Homo sapiens: one gene and its partner. The protein of the gene in region 1 purifies or fractionates together with the protein of each later gene. This does not show direct contact. Each region holds a gene or a part of one and is shown on either strand. Other genes may lie near its edges. The genes, in order: SLC25A51 and PCOLCE2.

The links.
Region 2: the proteins of SLC25A51 (region 1) and PCOLCE2 purify together in Homo sapiens (affinity purification with mass spectrometry; one large-scale study listed by BioGRID and IntAct). This does not show direct contact.

What each region holds. Positions count from the first base shown.
Region 1 is NC_000009.12:37,890,537-37,894,360, forward strand, and holds part of SLC25A51 (mitochondrial nicotinamide adenine dinucleotide transporter SLC25A51), read right to left. Parts: intron 1-3,824. UniProt on the Homo sapiens protein: Mitochondrial membrane carrier protein that mediates the import of NAD(+) into mitochondria. Mitochondrial NAD(+) is required for glycolysis and mitochondrial respiration.
Region 2 is NC_000003.12:142,840,295-142,844,118, forward strand, and holds part of PCOLCE2 (procollagen C-endopeptidase enhancer 2 precursor), read right to left. Parts: intron 2,755-3,824; coding exon 2,630-2,754; intron 1-2,629. UniProt on the Homo sapiens protein: Binds to the C-terminal propeptide of types I and II procollagens and may enhance the cleavage of that propeptide by BMP1.

The DNA of each region.
Region 1 (3,824 bases):
CTACAAAAATCAAAATAAATTTTTGGGGCATGATGGCGTACACCAGCTACTGGGAAGGTGGAGGGAGAAGGACCTCTTGAGCCCAGGAAGTTCAGGCTGCAGTGAGCTGTGTTCATGTCACTGCGTTCCAGCCTGGGTGACAGAGTAATACCCTGCTTTAAAAAAAAAAAAGAACATACGATCCAACAATCCTACTTCTGGGGATATAACCAAAACAATTGAAAGCGCAGTCTCAAAGACCTTGTACACCCACGTTCACAGAAGTACTATTCACAACAGCCAAGAGGTGGAAACAATCCAAACCATATTTAAGAGTTTCAATGGGAAATAATAAAAACAACAAAAAACCGTCTAGGTCTTTCACTTGGAACAAAAAATTGCCAAGTTCCTTAAGTTTTTTTTCCCTCCTCATACTACACACATGCTGTGGTGAACTGCTCAACACTCAGGACAAAAGATGTTAAAGAGAACCATGATCACTCTCAAAGTAGAAAGCGTAGAGCTGAGGCACAGAAAGAATCAGATAGCATTAGTTCCTAAGGGGCGTATATCTGCCAGAGCCACCAATGTGTAATGAATATGGAACACACACACAACCATAATTTTCCTTCTAAGACTACAGATTAAGAAAATAATTCACACAACATGTACACAAAGATTCAGCCATCGCCCGGCCAGCCGCCCCGTCCAGGAGGGAGGTGGGGGGCAGCCCCCACCCGGCCAGCCGCCCCGTCCGGGAGGTGGGAGGCGCCTCTGCCCGGCAGCCCCTTCTGGGAAGTGAGGAGCCCCTCTGCCCGGCCGCCACCCTGTCTGGGAGGTGTACCCAACAGCTCATTGAGAACGGGCCATGATGACGATGGCGGTTTTGTCGAATAGAAAAGGGGGAAATGTGGGGAAAAGACAGAGAAATCAGATTGTTGCTGTGTCTGTGTAGAAAGAAGTAGACATAGGAGACTCCATTTTGTTCTGTACTAAGAAAAATTCTTCTGCCTTGGGATGCTGTTGATCTATGACCTTACCCCCAACCCTGTGCTCTCTGAAACATGTGCTGTGTCCACTCAGGGTTAAATGGATTAAGGGCGGTGCAAGATGTGCTTTGTTAAACAGATGCTTGAAGGCAGCATGCTCGTTAAGAGTCATCACCACTCCCTAATCGCAAGTTCCCAGCGACACAAACACTGCGGAAGGCCGCAGGGTCCTCTGCCTAGGAAAACCAGAGACCTTTGTTCACTTGTTTGTCTGCTGACCTTCCCTCCACTATTGTCCTATGACCCTGCCAAATCCCCCTCTGCGAGAAACACCCAAGAATGATAAAAAAAAAAAAAAAAATTTTATATATATATATATACACACAACTACTTTAAAAAAAAAAAAAAAAAGATTCAGCCATAAGATAGTCACAGCCAGGCTTTTAACAGCAAATAATGAATACAAATGCTCAATAGTAAAAGACACAATGTGTAAGTGAAGATGTATCCACAGGATGAGACATAAAGTTATTAAAAATAAAGAAGTGTTTAAGGTTCAGTGTAGGATTAATTTTGAATTTTTAATGGTATTTAGACGCAAAGTAAAAATTAAATAGCATACGTATGTCAGGTACCTATGTCAGGGGAGATAAGACAGGCAAATAATTAGACAACAGGGAGATAAATGAAATCATGGAAGGTATCAAGGCCCCATACAGCAGGAGGTCATTAATCAGCTGTCTGGAGAGAATGACAGGCAGGACATGACCCGTGGGCTCGGCTCTGAAAGCTGAATAACTGTCACTATGCACATAAGGGTGAAGCACATTTTAGCCAATGGAGCAGCAGAGGCTAAGGCACAGGTGTTGGGCTAAAGGAGCAGCGGCATCGCGTTCTTGGAGGTTACTTGTGTATGCCCTGCAGGGGCACAACGTAGGTAGAGAAGGATGGGTAGCTGATGAGGACAGAGAAGCCGGTTAGGACCCTCAGGAAAATCCCAAGACCCTCTGAACAATACTACATTATATATATACAATATATACAATACTACATTATATATATATATTTTTTTCTTTTTCTTTTTTTTTGAGACAGTGTCTCACTGTTGCCCAGGCTGGAATGCAGTAGTGCAATCTTGGCTCACCTGCAGCCTCAACCTCCTGGGGTCAAGCAATTCTCCCACCTCAGCCCTCTGAGTACCTGGGACTACAGGCACATGCCACCACACCTGGTTAATTTTTTTTTTTTTCTTTTAGATGGAGTCTCACTCTGTTGCCCAGGCTGCAGTGTAGTAGCACGATCTCAGCTCACTGCAACCTCTGCCTCCTGGGTTCAAGCGATTTTACTGCCTCAGCCTCCCAAGTAGCTGGGATTACAAGTGCGCACCACCATGCCCAGCTAGTTTTTGTATTTTTAGTAAAGACAGATTTTTGCTGTGTTGGTCAGGCTGGTCTTGAACTCCTGACCTCAGGTGATCCGCCCGCCTTGGCCTCCCAAAGTGCTAGGATTACAGGTGTGGGCCACAGCGCCTGGCCCAATTTTTGTATTTTTTTTGTAGAGATGAGGTTTCACCATGTTGCCCAGGCTGGTCTTGAGCTTCTGGGCTGAAGTGATCCAACTGCCTCAGCCTCTCAAGGTGCTGGGATTACAGGTGTAAGCCACTGTGCCCAGCCAAATTTTTTTGCTTTCTCTTGTGAAGCAAATGAAAGAAACTATTTTACTTAAGTATGTTACACTAAGATCTGTATATCCTTTTCTAAGAATATAGACTATGATTAAGAAAATGTAGACATCTGTACAATCTATGGCCTAACGCCTCTTTGGAGTTTGAGCTGCTTTGCTGTCATGTTCCTATTAGAAAAGATGAACTCTTTTTACCTAAGAGCAAGTTAGGACTAATGTCACTGCAGGCCCAAAGTCTACCCTAAGGAAGGTAATACAAGGAGTCAGGAAACTTCTCCCCACTCAAAGAAAGTCACTTGGTTGTATCCAGAGAGCTGGGCAGTGTCAGAGCTCAAACCTTTCACTGTCCCTCCCTGATCAGGAGAGCCATACCACCTCTAAGGTCCAAAATATTTTGTTCAGTTGAAGAAACCTGCTCTGAAAATTTGTTTCACTGCCTTTTAAACAGAGAGAAATTACTTCCGATTTTGGCAGTTACTAATGCGGTTAGATTATGAAGTCACCTGTATGCTCCACTGAGAGATGCCAGATTCCTTGGAGTTGGGCTGTTTGTAGATCCAGTAACAACAAAAAATCATTTAAATAAAAATTCACAGAAGAAACGTGTATAACCTACATGAATAGAGAAAAAAAGCTGGAAACCAATTAAACACACAGAGAGCCTCTCCTCCAGGCTCACTGGCCTACTCGGGTCTCTTCTCACCTGAACTAATGCAAGGGACCCTGCAGCAATCAGCCTGACTCTGTTCACGCTCACCCACCCCTATTCCCTGCCCTCTTCAACCTACTCGTCATTTTAAAAAGAAACACACACACACACTACTAAGTTTAAAAAGTGAGGTATGTAACAATGCATTTTGGAATCTAATATTAGCACAGAGATACCTGAGCGTTTAGAATGGTTGCACAGTACTCTATGAAATGACTGCACTGTATACAATTTATTCTACCTCCTATTTATGGTTGCTGTTTTTTTTTATGGTTTTGTATTATTAAGGTTTGGAAAACTCTGTGGACAATTCAGCTTGCCAAGTGTGTGAGTGGGTATACAAAAGATATACATTTTTAATTCCAAGACCTTCCAGAGAGTGTCTAGAGGAAAGGTCTAATTAAACCTGCCCCCACTCACCTTTTTTTTTAACTTTTTTTTTTTTTTTGAGGCAGAGTCTTGCT
Region 2 (3,824 bases), on another chromosome or scaffold:
AAATTTTGATTAAATAGGCAATCAATCATTCCCCATACAAGCAAATGTTTAAAAGAACATTTCCAACATGTGAATCAAAGGAAACCTCACTGGATTTATTATTACCTATGACAGCTGGTACCCAATCTTGCCGAGCAGCAAGTGGGCAAGAACCCTCCTTGCTACTTCAGGGAAGATAAAGGACATTAATTCCTATTAGCTAGAGAAGACTCAAACACAGTAATCCAGGTGAAGATGATAATAGCAACAGCATCACAGATGGACACAAAGGTAATTTTGGCTTTGACCATAATTTCCACACATCTTTGGACTGAACTACCTTTTAAAAAGTCAGTGCCAGTGATAGGTGAATAATGCTTATTCATACTTAAGATGGCTTTAAATTGTATTAAAATATTTCCTCTTTGGGTCCAGTGACTTCTTACCACTTACTAATAAAATGCTTTCCAGGTTATTAAAAAAATTGGCGAACTTTTTCTACTTAGAAATTAGTCACAAAGGCTGGGCGTGGTGGCTCACGCCTGTAATCCCAGCACTTTGGGAGGCCGAGGCAGGCAGATCATGAGGTCAGGAGATCGAGACCATTCTGGCCAACACGGTGAAACCCCATCTCCACTAAAAATACAAAAAATTAGCCAGGCATGGTGGCGGGTTCCTGTAGTCCCAACTACTCAGGAGGCTGAGGCAGGAGAATGGACCGAACCCGGGAGGTGGAAGTTGCAGTGAGCCGAAATCGCACCACTGCACTCCAGCCTAGGTGACAGAGCAAGACTCCGTCTCAAAAAAAAAAAAAAAAGAAATTAGTCACAAAAACTTTTGCAGAGAAGATTAAAAAAAGTAAAGAAGAAGATAAAGGAAAAGAACTGTGGTAACAAATGATGGTAAGGTAATTCTTTAATAGAAGAAAATTCCAATGAAATTCCTTCAATACAATAATTCCCTTGCATAGAAACTATTTAGGACTTAATTTTCCCATTATATTTTTCTCCTTTGAGAAACTGCCAGTGATTTCAAACACAGTGATTAAGAACTCAATTGACAGAAGCCAAAAATCACATTAAAATCAAATAAAAATCAAACTTAACATTTAAATGATCAAAGGGAAGAACAATGGAAAAGAGATGCTTAACTGTAATCTGCAAGTATAATTAAGTTGGAATTATTTGGTCAAATATATTTACAAATGTCACAGAGAAAATGATCAATATAATTTCAAGAATTACATAATGGTTTAAATGTTTCAGAAACACAATTTTTAAAATTACTTTATAAAACATTCAACAGACTTATAAAATCTTCCATTATTAAATAAATGGCCATATATTTCTTCTTAAAAATAAAACCAAGTTTTGGAATTATGATCACTGTTTATGTCTGTATATATGTGTATATGTTCAAATCACTAACTTGCATGGTATATTAGCTTAAATAATTTTCTATAAAAAAAGAAATACATGACAAATGGTATCTGTTCAAGCTATATGAAAGGTTAATTTAGAAAAGTTTTTTTAAAAACAGTATCATAATGTTTACCTCATAGTGTTTGGGTTAAAGTCTATAGTGTTTCTAATAGTAATAATTTTTATAAAGTTATCTTTAAAGGTCCACAAAGTAGATTTCATGTGTTTCTATGCTAAGTTCTTTCCTGCAATTAATATGTGAAACTGGTTCCCAGAAAGGGTAAAAAGTTGTATATGTAACCACAAATTAATAAATACTGGAAAAGTCGACCTTCTCTGTTGATTATTTCAGAACAATGAATGAAGCTTTTTGTGGGGAACCTGCACATATTTTATTTTAAATGACAACCAAAAACACCCTAAAGCAGACCAGCTTGTTCTTTGAAGAGATAATGTGGCTTGCTTTTGTTGGCTTTGTTGAGGCAAAGCATCCACACTTTTTTATTTAGTCACTAGAATAACTATTATCAGGACATGATGGGTTTGTGATGGGAGCAAATGGTAACCTGAAATGTCCATGGACCTGGGGATTTTTATCCTCCCACAGTTAGTCGCTGCTGCTTATAACATCCACTGCAGGGTTAAACAATCCTATGTGAGATCTGCTTACCATTTGTATTTTTAAAACTGTTTTGAAAATTGTCATTATATAGCAGGAAATTAAATCCATGAATTTGCAACTCAAAAAAATGCAAAGGCTAGGCCGGGCACGGTGGCTCACATCTGTAATCCCAGCATTTTGGGAGGCTAAGGCAGACGGATCTCCTGAGGCCGGGAGTTTGAGACCAGCCTGACCAACATGGAGAAACTCTGTCTCTACTAAAAAAATACAAAATTAGCCGGGCGTGGTGGCGCGTGCCTGTAATCTCAGCTACTCGTGAGGCTGAGGCAGGAGAATCGCTTGAACCCAGGAGGTGGAGGTTGCGGTGAGCTGAGATCGCACCATTGCACTCCAGACAGGGCGACAAGAGCGAAACTCTGTCTCAAAAAAAAAAAAAAATATCTGGGGTCTTCGCATGAAGAAATACCTGTGTCCAGGAACCTTCCTCTTCTTGTATCCCTTAGCTCTCGAATAGCCCCCACAACAGGAGGCTCTTGAGAGTTGGTGGGCCCCCCACACTGGGCAATTCACACATGCATGCTTTCTTCACACTTCCAGGGAATCTCACCTGATTCTTTGGGGCTACAATGTGCCACACACAAGTGACTCCTGCAGGGTAATCCCGGTCTGGCCAGTTGGGGGTTTTAAAAGAGCCGGAAGGTCTGTCAAGGAGTCCTCCACAATACTGATCCCCTTCAAGTATTAAACAAGGAAAAAAGCCCACAAGTTTATGTAGGTTACAGCAATACAACCATGTGGAGATTAGGAATGTGGGATCTTTGGTGAGAGTACAGTAAATAAAGGCAACAGCAGAAGCGCTTACATTTTCTCTTAAACATATGGTTACATACATAACCCCCCAACACACACAATGAATGATCTTTGTTACCTGACATAGCATAGCAACACGAGAGAGGGGAGAAGTGGACTCAGGGCCTCTTTTCTTTTTTTTTCCTTAGACAAGGAAGACAAAACATTTGAATATGCACTCACTCAGAAAGCTTGCAGGCTCAAAAAATCATAGAGATGTTAAGGCTCCTCAAGGCATTGGTATTTAGTAAACACCCAGGGACAAAATTTGAATTAGTTGATATAGACAGCTCTCATTACTAGAAAACTTCCCATGATATATATATAATATGTATATAATATATATATGTTTTAAGAATAAATTTTGTTTGTAAAAATAATATTTACAAATTTTCAGCAATACAGAAAGGCACAAGGAAGGAAGCAAAAATATACCCCCAAATCCCCAGTTTTAGCCACCAAAAACTCATCAAAATTAATAGGTGACAAATATCATTTCAGGCATCTGTACTCATAAGTTGCATATGTACCTGTAGGTTGGCAGAAATAATGTAAGAATTATTTTAATACGAAGTTCTAAATTTAATTTTACTTGAATGTAAATAACAAATAAAAACTGAACTGAAACTAAAATAATTATACTTCAATGGAATATTTCTTTGACACAGAATATATCCAACCATTCTTAAATCAAACTTCTAAATTTAAGATAATGTATTATAAAAATGGAGGTTGGAATAATTTCTAAATCTCCATTTAATGAAAAATTTCAAGTATATACAAAGTAAGTAGAATAATATAATGACCTCCTACATATCCATTACCCAGTTACAATAATAGTCATCATTCTATTATTCTATCTATATTGCCACCCAATCCCCACGACCTGCTTCATTGTTTTTATTATTATTATTTTACAGGTTTTGGGGAGAGAAATTCACATACTCTGAAAT